Homo sapiens: one gene and its partners. The protein of the gene in region 3 interacts with the protein of the main gene of each other region in a pairwise test. Each region holds a gene or a part of one and is shown on either strand. Other genes may lie near its edges. The genes, in order: TPD52, HCCS, SENP2, CDK5RAP2 and ACSF2.

Region 1 (3,973 bases), on a different chromosome or scaffold from region 3:
TGTTGTCAGGGGTTAGGAAATTGAAGACATCTTTAAAGGCAGCAGAGTTCAACTCACAACACCATCTAATTTCAAAGCTCATCTTGTCTTTTCCTATTCTTGTAAAAATCTGTCCTCAGTTTTCTCATCTTTATATAATGAAGCATTTGACTTAAACCAGGGATCCCCAACGCCCAGGTGGTGGACTGGTACCCATCTGTGGCCTGTTAGGAACCAGTGAGTGGCAGGCGAGTGAGCATTACCGCCTGAGCTCTGCCTCCTGTCAGATCAGTGGTGGCATTAGATTCTCATAGGAGCATGAACCCTATTGTGAACCACACATGCGAGGGATCTAGGTTGCACATTGCTTATGAGAATCTAATGCCTGATGATCTGAGGTGGAACAGTTTCCTCTCAAAATCATCAACCCCCAACCGCCGTGGAAAAATTGTCTTCCATGAAACCAGTCCCTGGTGCAAAAAACACTGGGGACTGCTGACTTAAACGATTCAGAATTCTTTCAGATCTAAAATTGTATGACAATGGCCAAAAAGCTTTTAATCAATAATCTTAGAAAGTCTTGAAGCACTTGGTCATAATTGGAATAAAAGTCAAAGACGAAGAACTAGAGGGAAGATAACCATTTAAGTGGGTGCTCCAAAGGGGGGTTGGGGCTGCACCCAAGCAGAGAGAGGCGCTCCTCAAACTCTTATTTTTGGCTTAAGTGTAGGTTCTACATTTTTAGTAAAAACGCTTTTGCTGCTTTCCCCAGTTGAAATTTGTGAAAGTATGTGGCAAATGGGTGGTTATGCATGGGAAAGTAAAGAGAGAGCTACTTTAATTAAATCTTTAAAGAATAATTCAGTTCAGATGCAATATTAACATTGACTGTTCTAGGCACTGTGAGTTCTGAGATGGAGAGATAAAGTGACATCAGGACTTTATAGTCTAGAACTAGAGATGTGTTCAGGACTAAGCTCTTACCGGTTCTTGGCCACTCTGCTCTGCCTTTCCCTGCTCTGACCACACTCGCACACACACATTTCCACTTTGTCTTCCGCACATTATTCACAAGGACTCTGAAGTCTTGAAGTGTTGTATTTCATCAAATCCAAGACACCACAGATTGTAAGATGTTACTATTATTTTTTGTTTCATTAAGTATAAAATATGCTAATAGTTAAACTAAAAAAAAACCTGCTTTATCATAACTTAAGTTTTAAATCTTTTTTAAAAATTATTTTTAGTAGAGATGGGGTTTCACCACGTTGCCCAGGCTGGTCTTGAACTCCTGGCCTCAAGTGATCTGCCTGTCTCTGCCTCCCAAAGTGCTGGGATTACAGGTGTGTGTGAGCCACCATGCCCAGCCCCCTAAAAATTTTTATTAAAATTTTTGTTGTTGTTGTTTTGAGACAGGGTCTTGCTCTGTTGCCCAGGCTGGAGTGCAGTGGCACGATCACAGCTCATTCAGCTTCAACCTCCTAGGCCCAAGCGATCCTCCCGCCACAGCCTCCTGAGTAGCTGGGACTACAGGTGCAGGCCACTATACCCGGCTAATGGTTTTTGAGTTTTTGTAGAGACAGGATCTCACTTTGTTGCCTAGGCTGGTCTCGAACTCCTGGGCTCAAGTGATCCTCCCACCTTGGCCTCCCAAAGTGCTGGGATTACAGGTATGAACCACTGTGCCTGGCCAAAATTTTTACATTTATTGAAGTTCTTTTTTAGATTTATTCAGACGTTTACACTGATCATAACACTCCTGTGCATATTTTCTAAAATAAAAAAGAACATTTCCTAAAATGTCTTCACACCCATAATCTAACTTATTTGAATTGCTATTCAACTTGGAGTAATCTATGTCTATTCTATTGATTTATTTTCCTCACATAAAATGTCTGTGGTGCAGCCTTTCTTAAGAGACGTCTGTAACCGGACCTGGCATTTTCTAAGCCATTTTGCAAATTTTGAAGCATGTTTGCAGGTGATAACCATGTCACAATGACTGGCTGATTAATTGTACAGTGCATCTCAAAGATGTAAAATGTAAAAAGTATCTTCAGATTGATGGGATGTGTCTCTGCTTGTCTTCTCCATCCTTACCCCTGAGACACTAGAACTCTCAGCTGGGAATCAGCGAGATGCATTGCCCTGCCAGTGGACTCCAGACCCTTCCCAGGGGAGGCCACCCAATACCCAGCTTGCTGGAAGGACTTTTCCAAAGACAAGTCTAGACTTGTCACTCCCCCACCTAAAGCTCTTCAGGGATCCTATGGATGGAACTGAAGACAGGCTGACAATCTGTTTGCACAGCTAGATGAAGAGAACTAAGGCAATGGCTAAAATGTTAATAACCTGATGGAAGAAATTATCACTCATTTTCAGTCACTTGTGTTTGATAATGTTATCTGTGACTTTCAAACCAGGGATCCCCACAGGTTCCTAGACCCTCAGGAAAGTAAAACGTTTCTATGGAGAAAGACTAGGCCCTGTTTCCTTGTCCTGCCATGATCATTGATGTTTCTCTAAGATGTTCGTGATGGAGCTGAGTCGAGAGACAGAAAGACCCAAGTATTAATCCTGCCTCTGTAACTCTGGGCAAATTATATAGCCTTAGAGGACCGCAGTTTCCTGGTGGAAAAAAAATACTCCTCTCGGATGGTGGTTATGGGGTGTTTTTATTTTTATAAGATAACATGTAGACTTCCCCTCACAGTGGCTGGTGTAGTAGATGTCAGTAGATATTAATTGTATTTTCCCCACCATCTTTGTCTTTTAAAAACAGCTTTCCATCAGATTCTGAGAAAAAAAAAACAACATTAAAATTAATGAACAAATAAGTTTTGGATTATGGTTTTCAATAATCTATACTTTTAAATGTTCTTATTTTCCACCTTTCATGTTGTGAATGAGAAATTAATCTTTTCTCCCAAAAGCCAGACTCTATTTTCATATTAAATCCTATACCATTACTGAACATACAAGAAACAGGATCATATCTAGACGAATATATAAGGCAAAATTTGGATTCCCAGGTTTGGGGAAACTTTAGTTGGAATTAATGAAGACTGCTTTTGATCTAGTCTGCCAGATTCTTTCACTTTTTAGGGTCTTATTATTGCTTCTAGATACCTTTCAGGTCTGACCATCAGCCTCCTACTTTTGTCTTTGTTTTCAGATCAGTGATGTGAAGCATTTGTTTTTACATCAGACCGTCTAGGTTTAAAATCTGACCTCCACCAAAGATTTAGGTGTGTTAACCTGGGCAAGTTGCTTAATGTCTGTAAGCTTGAGGTTCCTGATCTGTAAGTGGTGACAGGGATCCCCACCTCACAGAAGTGTTGCACATAAGTATTTAAAACACTTAATTTGGACTTGTCTGTAAATGGAATGCACTCTGTCATGGTGGCTGTGGTTAATAATTTTCTCAAGGCATGACTGTGATGTTTTGCTGGTGATTTTGGTATCTACCATTCTGTTCTTCCTTGGTGTTCTTTAATTTCTAATTTTTTTTTCCAGACTGCACCTTTTAATTTTAATGATAATGATTTGCTGCCACCTACGGGCTAATGTGGAAAGAGCAGAACATGTCATTACCAACTTTCTTAGATGCTGAATATAAAATCTCAAGGTCATCCTGGCAGACTTGAAGCCAACTGGACAACCCGTCATCCTCTTTTCTGAGAGATTTATTTTCCTTGATAGCCTAGCCGCATACTTGAATAGAACCAGAATCCCCTTGGATTCTTTTTGGAATTGGGCAGTATACATAAAGCATTGTGTTAGCAGTCAGATACTGTATTTCTCCCCTTGTTTGAGTAGATTTGCAAAACAGTGTGTATCAAAAAAGCATGAAAGAGTCTTTGCTATTTAAGTAATGGTTTGGTACCTGAGTTTTGCTTGTTTTGTTTTGGAGATCTGTTGTAGTTGGAGAACCTGGGAGTTCTGTACAAAACATTAAAAATAAAATAACGTTTAACAGGTAGCTCTGTTATGG
Region 2 (4,469 bases), on a different chromosome or scaffold from region 3:
TGGGGAATAAGAACAGAGTATTGTGAATGAACAGAACATTGTGGAAATGAATAATTTTGAGGAATTGTGACAGACAGAGTCATAGGGAATGATGGAAAAGACAGAGAACTGTGGGAGGAATGGAACTGTGGGAAACAGAATTTTGAGAGATACAAGAATTTGTAGGAAAGAATAAAGGCTTGCTGGGAAACCCAGCAAATTTTGGGAAAAACAACAGAATTACGGGCAAGACAGGGAATTGTGGGACAGAAAAGTGAATTGTGGGAGACACAAGGAATCATGGGAGAAACAAGAGAATTGTGAGCAAGACAAGGAATTGTGGGACAGAAAAATGAATTGTGGGAAGGAATAGAATTTTGGGAGTGACATGGGATTGTGGGAGAAATAAGGAATTGTGGGAGAGACAGAAGATTGTGGAAAGAACTGAGAATTGTGGGAGACAGAACTGTGGGTAACAAAACAGAATTGCGGGAGTGAAAAGGAATTGTGGGAGGGACAAAAGAATTGTGGGTAAAGAGAGAAGTTGAGCTGTGATAGTTGAAATGGAATCCTTGGGCTATCCTGTAGGCAGTTCTGATGCTGGGATGGCCCTTCTGAGTTGTCCCCTTTGGGGCTAGGGGCCTGGACTTATGTGCCCTTGCAGAGACCCTCATAGGATGCAGATCGTCCCCAAGGAGGGGAAGTGATTTTGTGTGAGGCAATTCTCTTAGGCAGAGGACAATTCCTGGAGACTCAGCTGAAAGCTGTGAGCCCCCAACACTTTCTGCACCAGGGGACATCTGGACGTATTTCACAGAGCCACTATAGTTATATAGAAAGATATATGTTTCTTTATTAACACTTTAAGTAACAAGATCAAATTACCTTAATTTCAAAGTAGTGGATGGATGATATTTTGAGACAGGCACAACAACCATATGTGACATAATTTATCTGTAATGTGTATTAGTGCCACATACAGCTAATAGTACTAGGATTTATTGCCTACATCCCTGATGGAAGAAAATGCTAAATTTCTGTTGGAGGTAAATGAAAATACAGACATTCAAAATCACATACCCAGTTAAGAAGAATTTAGCAGCCAGAACACTGTCTTGTTCACTTTTGGATCTCCACCACCGAAGTTATGGGCACCTACTAACGTTTCTTGAATCATTGCTACAATTAAAACCGATAAGATTTAAAAAAAAAACAAATTTAAAAACTCCTCCAAAGCACTCCTTCTGCCGCATAAAGCATACATAGTAGAGCTCTTCACTCTAGGGAAGCCTCTGGAGCAGACAACCTTCCCTGCCACCGCCACATTTTGAAAAAGGCTCCTGGCCTGGAGGGGCGGGCCCAGAAAGCGGCCCCCGCAGCAGTTACAGGCCGGGGCGAGGAGGGGACGGAACCCGCTCTCCGTGATTGACGGAAAATATTACTCTTCAGCCCGCCTCCCGCGTGCCCGGAAGTCCCGCCTTCTAAAAAGGAAGTAGGGGTGCGTGAGAACGCCGGCGGTGACCGCAGCCACAGCGGTGACCGAGTGAGAGGAAGGCGGCGGCGGCGGCGGCGGCGGCGTGAAGTCACTGCTGCTCTGGGTTCGGGTTGGCGACTGAAGGCGGTACCGGCCTCCCGGAACAGCCCGGGGGAGGGCTTAGGTGCAGAAGGGCAGGCTGGCCGCGGCCGGTTTGGTCTGGGGACCACGGGCTGGAGCAGGTGGGCAAGCGCCGGGACGGTGTGGGGAAGACACTTGGCAGCTTCTCGACCTCTGGTGTCCCTTCGTTTCTTCGAATTCCTATTCATGCGCCGCACCCTTCTCGGACCCCCAGCCCCTCGCTAAGGCTCTGGGGATGGGGGTCAAGTCTAGGCTCAATGGACCTCCCCTCCTCCACCCGGGTCACCACTCCTCGGAAATCCTCGCCCCACTCCCGCCTCAGGCCTGTACCTCCTGGCTGTGACGTGGTTTCTCAGCGACTGCCTCACCTCAGTCCCAAAATCCTCACTGCCTTAGATACATACGTGCCCCCAGAGGTTGGCCTGGGTTTCACAGTATTTCCCTAAGGGGGCAATATATTAAAGCTGTCCTTCGAAGTTAGTACCCTGCCTGGTAGATGCCCATGGGATGACAAAGAGGAGGAACAAGGGTTGACCAGATTAGGACTAACGAGAGAATAGTCTGAGTCCAGAGACATTAATCTGTCTCTTTGTTTTGGCAGGTGGAAATTTAAAATTGTTTACAGTCAACACTGTTTCCAGCCATGGGTTTGTCTCCATCTGCTCCTGCTGTTGCAGTTCAGGCCTCAAATGCTTCAGCGTCCCCACCTTCAGGATGCCCGATGCATGAAGGGAAAATGAAAGGTAATCGGCCCTTTGCCTAGAAAATAAAAACAAAAGATAATTCACGGCTGGGTGCGGTGGTTCACGCCTGTGACAGCACTTTGGGAGGCCGAGGTGGGTGGATTGCTTGAGCTCAGGACTTCGAGACCAGCCTGGGCAACATGGCAAAAACCTCCCTCTACAAAAAAATACAAACATTAGCCAGACGTGCTGGTGGGTGCCCGTAGTACCAGCGACTTTGGAGGTTGAGGTGGGTAGGATCGCCTGGGAGGCCAAGGTTGCAGTGAGCCAAGATTGTGCCACTGCACTCCAGCCTGGGTGACAGAGTGAGACTGTGTCTTAAAAAAAGTCTGGAAAGCCTCTAAAGGAAGAGGCAGTGTAGTATGCTGCTGAGGCTGGTAGGCATGGGAGTCAGGCACCCTGGGTCTGGTCGTTATTTTGCGTCTTATTGAGGTTTGTGACTCTAAACAAGTTAACTCTGTTAGCCTCAGTCTGTCATCTGTAAGATGAAGATATAATAATGTTTCACAGGCCTGTCATGATGATTGAGGTAGTACATGAGAACGTAGTGAGTACTCTAAACCAGCCCCAACTTCCCAAAGTTTACTTGTGCCTACATCAGTGGTTCTTAACTGGAGGGGGGCAATCCCCCCTTCCCACAGGGGACATTTGCCAATATCTGGAGGCATTTTTGGTTGTCACAACTGAGAGGAAAGTGAATAGAGGGCAGGAGTGCTCCTAAACATCCTACAATGTACAGAACAGCCCCCCAACAAAGAATCAGCTGGCCCCAAATATCAAGAGGGCCAAGGTTGAGAAACCTTAGTCTAGATCTAGCTGTCTTAATAAATAACTTTTGCTCGTATAGCCATTTCAGTATTTTCGTATATAAAAGTAAGCCATCACTTAACGGGCTTGCTGTCCATTCTTTAGATAAGAAAATGAAAATGGAAAAGCTGTCTTTCATTTTTAATTCATTCATGTCTACTTTAGATTTTTTATATTAAAGTGTGGCTTGAATCAGTAAGTCGTGAAGGGCAGAAGCAACATGGTGTGCTTACTGAGTACTAATGTTTGCGCTGTTATTCATTTCTTCAGTCAGCCAGCCTATTCTGAGAGGTCACTGCCCATTCTGTACCAAGCATTGCTGGATTTTGTTTGTTTCTGCACGAGAGAATAACATCATACAAAATGGAGCTTTGCCTGATAGAGCTTACATTCTCATCTTCATAAGCTATGTGGTCTTACGACTTCATAAGCTAAGTTTTCTCCCTATTTTATAGTCAAGGAAACTAAGACTTGGAGTAACTGATGCTCCAAGTCACATAGTAAGTGGCAAAGCCAGCAAAAGTTCTGTGACCTTGGACAAGGACAGGCAGTGTTCTTCTGGGGTTTCTTTGTACAGGAAGAATTGAGACAGATCAGCCAAAGCAGGTGTGCTCCTGTTCTGAGTGTCCTCAGGGAGATTCTAGAACCCTTACTTTGGTTTTATTTCATTTGCTGTATATCTTGGAGAGCTGCCAGACTTACTACATTAATAAAGAATGTGGGTGTCTATAGGAGATCGAAGGGGCTACTGGTTATATGACGTGAAAAGTTGAAATGTTATTTTCTTTGTAACACCCAGCTGGGATCTATGACTTGGAAAGGATTGGTGCTTTCAGTGGTAGAGAGGAAAGGCATAGCAAGTCTTCCTTCACCCCTAAAGTGGGCAGTGGCACAGGGCACCAGGAAATGAGGGCTTGGGAGGAGAAGTGCAGGGAAGGAAGTGAAAGCAAACTCAGCTTTTTCATGTGTATTGCTGTAGTTGCTGCTGCTGCTGCCTGAGGCCAAGATTCCATTACATGAGCAGCTGTCTTCTGTGTCTCAGCTCTCCAAGTGCCTGCTCATTCTCTGAACCAGTTTCCCAGTCCCTCACTAATTGGGATCAGCATCCTGGGTCTTTGGGCATAGCCCTTGCTATTGCTCATCTCATTAGGCTCAGACCTTCCCTCGTAATGGGCATCTTGATCCTGTATGGGTTGTGGAATATTTTCTTTATTGTCTGTCTTTTCCTGTTAAACTCTTGCCATTGACTGATGGGAATAGGCCATAGGCCACGTGGTTTTCCTGTGCCTTGTTTCAGTCTTGAGACAAAGCAGAGTGGCATTCAG
Region 3 (3,973 bases):
CAAGGCAGAAGGATCACTTGAGCCCAGGAGTTTGAGACCAGCCTGGGCAACATAGTGAGACTGTCTCCACAAAAAAATTTAAAAGTTAGCCAGGCATGGTGGCATGTCTGTAGTCCCAGCTACTTGGGAAGCTAAGGTGGGAGGATTGCTTGAGCCCAGGAGGTCAAGGCTGCAGTGAGCTGTGATCACACCATAGCACTCCAGCCTAGGTGACAGAATGAGACTCTGTCTCAAAAAAAAAAAAAAAAAAAAAGGCAGGAAGCATTGAAAATACACAACTTTTTTCTTCCTTCTGAGTTGTTGGAGTTTTGCCTCTGTACAGTAGCCACCTTTGTTTATGAGAGACCAATCTGCCTCCATACCAACATGTTACCTACATTTTATGGCTTCTTAGGGAGAATTTCTTAAAAATCATACATCTCTGGAAAGAGATGATATGTTCTGGGTTGCTGGCAGAATTCTATTTGTTTACTACAATTGTGGTTATATAGGTGTTCATTCAAATTAAGTGGTACATTAATGTTTTGTGCATTTTCTGTAATATCAAATGACTTTTTTCAAGGATAAACTAGAACCAAGTTGAGTTACTATAAAGATAGTAGGGATTTATTCTGAGTGATGGGATTGTGGGTCATATTTTTTGCTGTTTAAAACTTTCATAATATCTTTTAAACATACTAATTTTAATTGTGATAGGAGAACTGAAAATACTTTTCTTGCTACTTCCAGGGAAGGTGGTGAGTGTTCTGTTTGATGGTTCATAACTGAGGGTCCTGTGAGGCCTAGGTCTGGAGCTTTTTTTGCTCCCCCTTGCAGGGACAGACAGATAGGGTAAATCTACTCACTTGGGGGATTTGCTAATTCTCTTTTCTTTCACATTAGTGGCAGTTTTATATTTCATGTGTAATCTGTGTTTATATTTGCAAGTATCAAACATGTCAGTAGAATTTAGATAATTTTTTGATCAGAGGAGGGGATACCAACTGGAGCCTGACCTATCAGAAGAAGTGTCGGCCCGACTCCGCCTGGGCAGTGGAAGCAATGGCTTACTCAGGAGGAAAGTGTCAATAATTGAGACAAAGGAAAAGAATTGCTCAGGCAAAGAGAGGGACAGAAGAACGGACGATCTCCTTGAACTTACAGAGGTATTGTTCTTTGTATTGATCCTAAAAAGAGGCATGTCTTTAAATAACCTCAGTTATTCTAACTTGAATGTTTTGTTTTGAGGACTTTCTCCAGGCTAGGGGTGAATATATGAAAACATGTCAGGTCCATGGTCTGTTGATTCACTTTGACTACATTGATCTTTAGTGAGGCATGATCATTAGTGGCCTAAGGGATCAGATTGATATTCAGCAAATGGGGAGTCGACACAGTCATCTCATATCTTGGAATACAACAGATTCTTTGTAAATTCTAACCTTCAAATATGTTGAGTTATATAGTATGGGTTTGGCATTAAGAATAAGTTCATTGCATTTTTTTTTTGAAAGTTATTATAGTTTACTAAAATGCCCCCTTTGTTGATTATTGCATTTGAAAATAGTAAAAACTTACAGAACATAAAGAATGAAGGTAGTTAAAATTCTTATTTTAAAGATGTGCCCACATCTTGGCTTCCTCCACAATGTTGCCCTAGTAGGCAAATCTCTTGAATACTTACTGTTATATTGGGCATGTAGGTGGAGAGAGAGATCCATAAAATGGTGAAGCTGTGTGCAGTGGGAAGCAGCATATATTTAGAAGAAAATAATTTCTTTTTTTTGAGACAGAGTTTCGCTCTTGTTGCCCAGGCTGGAGTGCAATGGCGCGATCTTGGCTCACTGCAACCTCTGCATCCTGGGTTCAAGTGATTCTCCTGGCTCAGCCTCCCTAGTAGCTGGGATTACAGGCACCTGCCACCATGCCCAGCTAATTTTTGTATTTTTAGTAGAGACCGGGTTTCACCATGTTGGCTAGGCTGGTCTCGAACTCCTGACCTTAGATGATCTACCCACCTCGGCCTCCCAAAGTGCTGGGATTATAGGCGCAAGCCACTGCCCCCGGCCTAGAGGAAAATAATTTCTATTGGGTTTATAGATTTAGTTTTGTATCTTAAATAATGCATTTATCTGCATAATTCTTTAGTATGATGAAGCCATTTATTCCATAAGGAGTCAATTGCTAGACTGCTGGGTGGTTTCCAAGTTTCTGCCTGTTTGCTTATTCTCTTCATGTCAAAAAGGATGGTGTGACCCCTTAGATGTCCTAATCTTATTTTGATGTTTTATTTATTTATTTATTTTTGAGATAGAGTCTCGCTCTGTTGGCAGGCTGGAGTGCAGTGGCACAATCTCAGCTTACTGCAACCTCTGCCTCCCAGGTTCAAGTGATTCTTCTGCCTCAGCCTCCTGCGTAGCTGGGACTACAGGCGCGTGCCACCACGCCCAGCTAATTTTTGTATTTTTAGTAGAGATGGGGTTTCACCATGCTGGCCAGGCTGGTCTCGAACTCCTGACCTCATGATCCGCCCGTCTTGGCTTCCCAAAGTGCTGGGATTACAGGCGTGAGCCACCACACCCAGCCTTTTTTGATGTTTTAAAAGTTTAAAGGCGAGAATGGGCGTGGTGGCTCACGCCTGTAATCCCAGCACTTTGGGAAGCCAAGATGGGCGGATCATGAAGTCAGGAGTTCGAGACCAGCCTGGCCAGCATGGTGAAACCCCGTCTCTACCAAAAATACAAAAAAATAGCTGGCATGGTGGTGTGCACCTGTAATTCCAGCTAATCAGGAGACTGAGGCATGAAAATTGCTTGAACCTGGGAGGCAGAGGTTGCAGTGAACTGAGATCATGCAGCTGCATGCACTCCAGCCTGGGTGACAAAGTGAGAATCTGTCTCAAAAAAAAAAAAAAAAGAAGGGCCAGGCTGGTGGCTCACACCTGTAATCCCAGCACTTTGGGAGGCCGAGATGGGCAGATCACGAGGTCAGGAGATCGAGACCATCCTGGCTAACACAGTGAAACCCCGTCTCTACTAAAAATACAAAAAATTAGCCGGGCGTGGTGGCGGGCGCCTGTCATCCCAGCTACTCGGGAGGCTGAGGCAGGAGAATGGCGTGACCCCGGGAGGCGGAGCTTGCAGTAAGCCGAGATGGCGCCACTGCACTCCGGCCTGGGAGACTGAGCGAGACTCCGTCTCCAAAAAAAAAAAAAAACGTTTAAAGTGGAAATCAGGAGTTTACTATTATGAAGGGAGCAAAGTCCAGGAAATTAGATGCACCTGGGTTCAAATCTTCTTCTACCTTTTAATAATTATATGACTTTGAATATGTAAAATAAATTCTCTGGGTTTCAATTTTCTTCTCTATAAAATGATAATAATGTCTTCCTCACTAATATGGATCAATGATGTGCTTCAAGCATCTAACACCATGTTTGACTCATAGTGGTTAATACGTAGTAGTAGGAAAATTGAGACTATACTTTAGATGTAAATATTATTATTAAATTATTGTTTCCACAAGCTAATAAGTGAACCAGGATTTGTTGTAAGTATTACTTACAACAATTAAGTAAGGCTGCTTTGTAGTTATAAGTTAAAATATTTTCAGGGCTGGTGCAGTGGCTCATGCCTATAATCTCAGCACTTTGGGAGGCCAAGGCAGGTATTGCTTGAGCCCAGGAGTTTGCAACCAACTTGGGCAATATAATGAGGCCCCATCTCTATCACTAAAAATAAGAAAAAAATGTTTTCCTACTGTAGTTTAGTAGGTCTTTGATAGTATATTTTTCTCAAGAGTCAGGTGTTGCCGAGATGAAAAACTTTTTTCAGTCTCGGAGTTTTCAATAACTGATAATGAATGGTTCTATATTAAAATAGCAACTTCTGAACTTTCTAATTCAGGACATGGAAAAGGAAATCAGTAATGCCCTAGGCCATGGCCCACAGGATGAAATCCTAAGTAGTGCTTTCAAATTGCGAATTACTCGAGG
Region 4 (3,973 bases), on a different chromosome or scaffold from region 3:
CAGAGGCCCTGGCACTTTGCCCATAGCTTGCCATTTTTTAAAATTCAAATTTAAATTTTTTATATTTTGTAGAGATGGGGGTCTTGCTATATTGCCCAGGCTGGTCTTGAACTCCTGGCCTCAAGTGGCCCCCCTGCCTCGGCCTCCCGAAGTGCTGGGATTATAGGCATGAGCCACCATGCTGGCTCCTAGCTTGCCATTTGCACTCAATACTGTTTTTATTTTTTGCTGAGACACCAGAGTGCCTCAACTCCAGGTGCTACCTCAAACAGTTGCCCAGGAGACCCTAGGGCCTCTCTCTTCTTGGGAAAAATGGGCACGAATTGATAGAATTCATTTTCTCACTCAGCTTTTTGAGAGCCTGGACTTAAACCATTTCAGACAAGCTGCAGTATATTTATGCTTTTTATGTCCTGTTATGGCAGCTCGATAGATTAATTTTATCTTATAAATTGCATTTTGCCTCCCCAGTGTTTTTATTTTCCCTGTTGTATCTTTGTGTTCTTCTCAGTTGCTTGGCTAAGTTTCAGGTCTTACGGTTTTATTTATTTTTCTTTCTCTTTGTGATTGCCTGTAGCTCAGCCCCCTGTGGGAGCAGCCTACCAGGACAGCCCAGGAGAGCAGAAAGGAATTAAAACCACATCTTCTGTCTGGAGAGACAAGGAAATGGACAGTGATCAGCAAAGAAGCTACGAGATTGGTCAGAATTCAGCCCCTGTGTGTATTGAACAGCTTCCATGTGCCAGGCACCATTTGGATGTTTTATCTAAAAATTATTACTAAGCCCATAGCAGCCCTCTCAGGGCATTATTATCATTCCAGTCTAACACATGGGAAGCTGAGGTTTTAAGAAATAATTGACCCAGGGTCACCCAGCTGGTAAGTAGGAGAAGAGTCAAGGTACAGTAGGATGTCAGAACCCACCCGTCCATGTGTCAGCATGCTTCTCTACCAGGCAGTGGGCTGGGTTCTGGTGGTTCAACATGAAAAGACACAGCCTGCTCTTAGGGACCCCACAGCTCGGAGGAGACAATCATCCCAACAGCCTGTTAGTATTCAGCGCGGGGCTGCCTGTTGCTGAGGTGTGCTTGGTGTTGGTCCGTGTGCCCAGGAGGAGTGGGTCAGAAGAGAGCCTGAGGCTGAGACTGGGTTTGTGGGGTTTGCCAGGCAGATCAGTGGAAAAGGTGCAGAGATACGGGTGAGGGCAGAGGCAAGTTGTATTCCTTTCTTTTTAAAATTATGAAGTATTAGAAGCATACATAAGCACAAAAGATAATATAACAAATACTCATGTTCTCATTCAACCAGAATGAACAAATGCCTACATTCTTTTTATGTTAGATATTTTTCCCCCTTCATTAAAAAAAATCACTATTAATCCAGATCTAATTCACTCTGTTAGAAATAATTGTCCTCAAGAATCCTAAATTTGTCATGGGATGGCCATGGGGACACCAGTCTCTGGAAAAATACTGAGTTGTGGTATATACACTGTTGTATACTTTTGCAAGGTCCAGAGTCACTGCAGTGAACACATGGTCACATGCTTCTGCGTGTTCTGGGCTTTGAGGAGAAAGCTACTCTACCAGGCAATAAAGTCCCCCTTAGCTGAATTGTGGAAAGTTGTAGAACTATAGTATTTCTTATAATGCAAATATTCATAAATGGTCTTGGGGACATCTTTTGATTTCTTCTTGATAGTTATTAATACAGACTTCTTAACTAATCGACAGCTTCCCTTTCCCTGTCAGTACTTCCCTTCATTACTGAATGTCTTTCATTTTTCTGAATGTGCTTCCAGAACTTTGTATGTGAATTGCATCTGCCTGAACTTCCACCTTTTAATTGTTGCGCAGCTGAGGCTGGGTGCTGCGTGTGACATCTTCATTGCTGTTTCTTTTTCACAAGGCCCTTGACAGATACTTGGGATGTGAATAAAGGATTTTACAGGCATCTTGGCCTTCACATTGAGGGTTAAGAACTCTCTCTCTCTTTGCTCATGCACCGCGGTACAGGAGATTGGATTGCAGGAGTGTTACTTCGGGAAGCATCATTCAGAGTGTTAGAGGCAGACTGCCAGGCTTTGAGGAGGGGCTCTACTGCTTACCTACCCTGAACCCTAAGCAAATTCTTAAGCTCCCTAAGCCTCAACTTCCTCTTCTGTAAAATGGGGGTACTAGTGATGCCTCATAATTACTTAAGGAAAGTCCTGGGAACTAATCTTTATTTCCATGAGTGAACACGCTTCTTGCCATGAAGTACAGACCAAATTCTATTATCATGAGGTTATTACAGCAAAGATATTTTCTTGTCTTGGAGGGTGATTCACTGGAAAAAAAGCCTTATGGAGAGATATCTCCCTCCCCAGTTCCTCTTTCTCTTTCTTGTTCAGCCAGAAATACTTGGTGAGTACATTCTCTGTCGCAGACCCTGTGCTAGATACTGGAGAAACAGACATGGATGACACGGTCTGCACCCTCAAGGCTCTTATTGAGTAATTATCATAACATTGTGTATAATAAAAATACTGTATTAGGAATGCTTCCTTTAGGTCAGGTAGCAGCTGCTTTCTGAAATGAAATGCCATACTTTATGGTATTTGCATCATGAACAGATACAAGAGTGTACCTCAAGTCACAAGGAGCAGATTGCAGAACCAGAAATTGGGACATGCAGTCTGATGAGGATTTGTGTGTGAATTTCTTTCTGAGAGATCTCCTAGGTCACCCAGTCCAACCCACGTTGTTGCTTTTGTAGCATTTTTCCAGGCTGGCCTTCGCACGCACGCCTCCGGTGAAGGGCATCTCCTTCTATCTTGGAATGGTTAGAGGATGTTTGTGTTACTTGGATTCCTTCACTACTATGTGCCAGACACTGTGCTAGCCTTTTTTTTCTTTTTGCAGATTTTGTTCCATATAATCCCTAAAAACAAACACACACACACAACTTTTCAGTGATGTTCTTTCCATTTTACAGATAAAGCTACTAAAGCTCAGAGAGGTCAAGTAACTTGCCTATGTGACAGAGCCAGAGTTTGAAACCATGTCTGTTGAATTTCAAAGACAGGTTTTTCTACTACATTCCGCTGCCCCTTAAGTATTCAGACAGCTCTCTATATTGAACGGAACTTTCCCTGGGCAGCCAGCAGTGTGGCACAGTGGTTAAGAACAGAAGCTGCACTACAACCATATGAGACATCTCTTTCTACATTTTAGACACAGGGGAAACTGAGGCTCTTGGATAGTAAAGTCACTTGCCTCAGGCTGTGTGGCCTTCAAACTTCATATTCTTTCTGCTGTACTACTCCACTTCTGAAACAAGTTTGACTGCATCTCTAAGGGTTTAGCTATTACTAGCTATAAGGAAATATTTCCTGGCAGTGTTGTGAGTGAGTGAAACACCTCACTAAAGGGGATGTCAGGGCATCTCCTGGAAGCCATTAGACATGGAAATGAGAAGACTGTCACGTGTTGTGGATATTCAGAATTACCACTCTTTACTGTTGCTTCACAGAATCTCTCAATATTTCTCACACTGGCACTGACTTCTGGTCTGGGTTAGGTTCTGTACTAGACGCCGAGAATGTGAAAATGAAAGGCCACATCTCTGCTGTGAAGAAACGTGCAGTCTGGTGAGGGAGAGCTACATTCAGATGACGAATTGCTATGTGAATCAATAAATAAGCCACTTAAAATTTTTACTTTAGCACCCAGCACATAGTATATTTGTCTTGAGTAATATGCATAAGGTGCTACAGAACCACAGCGAGTTGTGACTTTTGCATAGTTTGGCAGTGGGCTTGCAGAGGAAGGAAAATTAGATCTGGGTATGGAAAGAGTTCATTAGGTAGGAGTAGAATAGAGGGCTGAAGGTGTTCCAGGCAGAGGGCACGGCCCATGCAAAAGCATGGAGGCATGACACAGCACGCAATGTGCAGGGAATCATGGTTAATTTTGTAGGAAATCTCCAGAGT
Region 5 (3,973 bases), on a different chromosome or scaffold from region 3:
CATGGCGGGGTGGGTGAGAACAGGGAGTTCCCTTCCACTTCCAAGCCTAATTTCGAGACCTCCTCCTATACAGAGGCACCTTCCTGTATGGTACCCCCACGATGTTCGTGGACATTCTGAACCAGCCAGACTTCTCCAGTTATGACATCTCGACCATGTGTGGAGGTGGGGTGGGGCCAAGGGCAGCCAGGCTTGGGGAGGGGGCTGCTTCCCCCACAGGAATGGCCCGGGTGAGTTAGCTATGCTCCCAGTCTTTTATATAGGGGGCAAGAAGGACGCTGTAAAAATGTGGGTGGGAGGGAGGGAGATCCCCAGTGTCCCTGGACACCAGCCCAGGGCCAGCTGCCAGGTGTAGGAAAGGCTCGGGGTCAGAGGAGAAAAGGGAATGTTCCTCCCCTGAATGAGCTGTAGGTGAAAGGACTCCACTGGGCCTGGAGAATTGGGGAGCTGTGTCAGCCCTCTCTCTGATTCAGGTGTCATTGCTGGGTCCCCTGCACCTCCAGAGTTGATCCGAGCCATCATCAACAAGATAAATATGAAGGACCTGGTGGTGAGTGGTGACTGCGGCCCGGGCTGTGGGCAGGCCAGGCCTGGGATGACAGCAGATGGACAGACATGGGGATGAGTCCAGGCCAGATGTTCAAAGGAGACCCTCTCAGCCAGCCCTCCTTCCAGAAAGCAGATGTGAGAAAAGATAGTCTGACCTCATCAGCACCTGGTGGGTGAAGGAGATAGGTGGCAGGGGAGTAAATATAATACATACATACATTTATATTTATAGAAATCTCAGGAAGAAATTGCAGCATGGGAAGATGGACAGCAAAGCACCGATGTCCTGCTAGAACGTCCTGGCAGGTGGGGGCTGGCAGAGTTGGGGCATGGGCTTTAAAACCCTTTCTGGAAGCAAGGGGTGGGGCAAGGATCTGATGATTGTTTCCACGTGGCAGGGAAAGAGGAACAGAGGAAGGATGATCCTGGGAGGGTGGCCATCCTGATGACCAACCTGTTGTGGTTCTGATTGACTTGGGGGGGGGGTCTCAGCAACAGCTTCTCCAAGAGGAGCTGGAGGGTGGGGAAGGCATGAAGGCTGGGGAGAGGCTCAGCCTTCCTTCTCCCCAGGACACTGCTGGGTGGAGCTGGGTTGGTAGTGGAGTGCCCGAGGCCCCCTGCCAGGACGTGTCTAGGTGTAGGCAGCTCTGTGCATCAGCAGAGGCTGTGGGGAGAAGGTATGGGTGGAGGTGAGAAGGTCAGTAGTCTCTCCGGTGGAAGGCAGAGGCCAGTCACCAGGACTGGCTGGGTCAGAACCTGCAAAGAGGCAAAGATCGATGTCAGTACTCCAACAACACAGATGATGCTTGAAGAAAATGGTGGAAGTCCTGGGCAGGACCTTTTCCTCCCTTCAACAGGGGACCCAGTCGTCCCCTCCTCTCTCTGTAAAAATGGAGGGTCTGCCTGACCCTCCAGGGCCAGGGGGTATCCTGGAAGATACCAGCTCACTTGCTGGAATCACCAAAGAGGGACATAGGGGACCTGTTTACCTGGCCCCCACCTGTTTAATGGCGGCCAGCTTTCTTGGACCTCTTGGTGGGGAACTTGCAGCTGCGGAAGGCGTCCGTGTCACGGATGTGCTGGCCCTTGAACTTGGCAGGTGAGGCACAGGTGGCATCTGGGCGGGAGGCCTTGGCTTCCAGCCACCTGGAGAGACAGAAACTTGCTGGGGCTGGGGAAGAAGGTGGGAGTGCTGGGGGGAAGGGCAGTGAACTATGGGGCCAGGATTGACTTGGCCACAGGATAGTCTGAAGCTGTCATCTTCATTTTACAAATGGGGAAACTGAGGCTCCCAGGGTCCCATGCTTATTAGGTAGCAGATCTAGGATGCATGTCCAACATGTCTTAGTGCAGGGCTAATGTGCCTCTATCACATGAGGGTGGGCTCTGGGAGTGACATGGAAGTGTTCTTACCGCCGAAGGCCCCGGAGCTGGCAGGTACACTTCCAGGGGTTATTGGTAAGGGCGAGGGTCTCCAGGCTGTCGAAGGGGAAGTTGGAGGGTAGCTGGTTCAAGCGGTTGTTCTCCAAATGGACGTGTTTCAGCGTGGTTACACCCAGGAAGGCACCATCTGAGAACTGGGGAGCAAGGTGGGAGCAAGGTGGGAGCAAGGTGGTCATGAGTGAATGAGTAAGCACCCGAGTGCCAGAGGGGCAGGATCCTTCCCTGAACCTGAGCCATAGCACTTTGAGGAGTTTCCCAGTTTTCAAAGCAGTATGACCAAGTGATCTCAGATAATCCAATCTACACAACCCCCTTTGAGACAGATGGTGTTATTTTCTTTTTTTTTTTTTTTTCCTTTTTTTTTTTTTGAGATGGAGTCTCACTGTGTTGCCCAGGCTGGAGCACAGTGGCACGATCTCAGCTCACTGCAAGCTCCGCCTCCCGGGTTCACGCCATTCTCCGGCCTCAGCCTCCTGAGTAGCTGGGACTACAAGTGCCCGCCACCATGCCCGGCTAATTTTTTTGTATTTTTTTAGTAGAGACGCAGTTTCACCATGTTAGCCAGGATGGTCTCGATCTCCTGACCTCGTGATCTACCCGCCTCAGCCTCCCAAAGTGCTGGGATTACAGGCGTGAGCCACCACGCCCAGCCAGGTGGTGTTATTTTCAATATGCAAATGGGGAAACGGAAAAAGCGCAGTCCTTTGCCCTGGGTCACAGCAGTGGGTAAACAGTAGCCACAGGACCACACCCAGCTCCTCTTCCCCTGGCACCACAATCCCTGCACAAACACTGGGACTGTGGGGCTGCCAGAGTTTGGCCCCAGCAATCCAAACTGGTACACGGTGAACTTGGTCTGTGCTTGGTGGAGTGGGCAGTGGGCCCAGGCTCCCCACAGTCCCAGGGTCCCAGGACTTCCCTCAGCTCTGTCCTCACTGCTCCCCCACTGCCAGCCAGACGCTATTTGTGAAGCCACCTTGGTGGAGCCTTTGGCCAGGTTGGACGGCTCCAGAGGAAATGTTCTATTGGTGCCCACACCTTTGCCCAGGCGCCACAATTCCTGTCTGGCCTCCCCTGCCCCAAACCAGCCCCTAATTCGCTGCTCTGCTGCCCACTGAAAGACCACTCTGGCACTGGTGGGCCACAGGGGACTCCAACTTCAGCTGGGGAGAGGCAGGGCTGAAGAAGGGCAGGCTTGAGCAGGCTCCTTCCACCCAGACAAAGGTTGGCTGCTGCCCAAGTGAGATTCTGCCCACATCTCCACACCCGCACCCTTTCCTGTGGCCCACATTGAGGTATGAAGGTCTCCAGTAACCAGACTCTCCTCTACCTTGTTGGTTCCCCACCCAAACCTCCTGGCTGAAGCCCCTGTACCAGGGTGATTTTTCCAGTCCCAGAGAAGGGATTCTGCTCTGATCCAAGGTAGCCCCACCTGGCCAGACACTGGGCACCCCAGGGGAGAAAGGAATGAGTGAGGATGCAGACAGGAGATGGGTCTAGTGACGGAGGAGGGCAAAGGGCAGTTAGCAGTCTGGAGACAGTGAGTCACGCCAGTCTTCTCTGTGGAGAGACACCTGGGGTCTTGGGCCAAGGATTGACAATAGTGGTCTTGCCTTTGCCCCTTCACGGAGCCCATGGGCACGATGCTTGCATCCTGGGGGAGCCCTTGGTCCCACGCCTACTGAGCTGCAATGGACTTGAGAATGCAGTGAATTGTGTCTGTGTGGATTGGGCAGGGCCATCCACCAGGGCCTCTATGGGGCATGGAGAATGTCTTCCTCAGGCATTTGCTTCCCCTCACTCCCCAGTCCCCCACTCCCCCTTAGCACACATGCACAGCCCCCACCAGGAACAGGGTCTCTTTGTGGGCCTGATCTGCCCAGCTCCTCTGGAAGGCTCCTCAATAAACAAACCTTCCTTTATGGGGTGGTAGGTTTACTGGAGACGGGAAAAACAGCAGAGGAGGGGTGGAAGGCCCAAC

What was found.
Region 1: the proteins of SENP2 (region 3) and TPD52 interact in a two-hybrid assay, tested with the Homo sapiens proteins (one large-scale study listed by BioGRID and IntAct).
Region 2: the proteins of SENP2 (region 3) and HCCS interact in binary tests that used the Homo sapiens proteins (3 or more experiments, as listed by UniProt).
Region 4: the proteins of SENP2 (region 3) and CDK5RAP2 interact in a two-hybrid assay, tested with the Homo sapiens proteins (one large-scale study listed by BioGRID and IntAct).
Region 5: the proteins of SENP2 (region 3) and ACSF2 interact in binary tests that used the Homo sapiens proteins (3 or more experiments, as listed by UniProt).

Annotation. Positions count from the first base shown.
Region 1 is NC_000008.11:80,066,880-80,070,852, reverse strand, and holds part of TPD52 (tumor protein D52), read left to right. Parts: intron 1-3,973.
Region 2 is NC_000023.11:11,109,824-11,114,292, forward strand, and holds the start of HCCS (holocytochrome c-type synthase), read left to right. Parts: upstream 1-1,508; 5' UTR 1,509-1,695; intron 1,696-2,195; 5' UTR 2,196-2,237; coding exon 2,238-2,337; intron 2,338-4,469. UniProt on the Homo sapiens protein: Lyase that catalyzes the covalent linking of the heme group to the cytochrome C apoprotein to produce the mature functional cytochrome.
Region 3 is NC_000003.12:185,613,596-185,617,568, forward strand, and holds part of SENP2 (sentrin-specific protease 2), read left to right. Parts: intron 1-968; coding exon 969-1,145; intron 1,146-3,884; coding exon 3,885-3,973. UniProt on the Homo sapiens protein: Protease that catalyzes two essential functions in the SUMO pathway.
Region 4 is NC_000009.12:120,440,347-120,444,319, reverse strand, and holds part of CDK5RAP2 (CDK5 regulatory subunit-associated protein 2), read left to right. Parts: intron 1-577; coding exon 578-700; intron 701-3,973. UniProt on the Homo sapiens protein: Potential regulator of CDK5 activity via its interaction with CDK5R1. Negative regulator of centriole disengagement (licensing) which maintains centriole engagement and cohesion. Involved in regulation of mitotic spindle orientation.
Region 5 is NC_000017.11:50,463,745-50,467,717, forward strand, and holds part of ACSF2 (medium-chain acyl-CoA ligase ACSF2, mitochondrial isoform 2 precursor), read left to right. Parts: intron 1-73; coding exon 74-165; intron 166-473; coding exon 474-550; intron 551-751; exon of another isoform or gene 752-781; coding exon of another isoform or gene 782-855; exon of another isoform or gene 856-1,553; coding exon of another isoform or gene 1,554-1,695; intron 1,696-1,962; coding exon of another isoform or gene 1,963-2,126; intron 2,127-3,973. Other genes in the region: CHAD (chondroadherin precursor), read right to left, coding at 1,554-1,695, 1,963-2,126. UniProt on the Homo sapiens protein: Acyl-CoA synthases catalyze the initial reaction in fatty acid metabolism, by forming a thioester with CoA. Has some preference toward medium-chain substrates. Plays a role in adipocyte differentiation.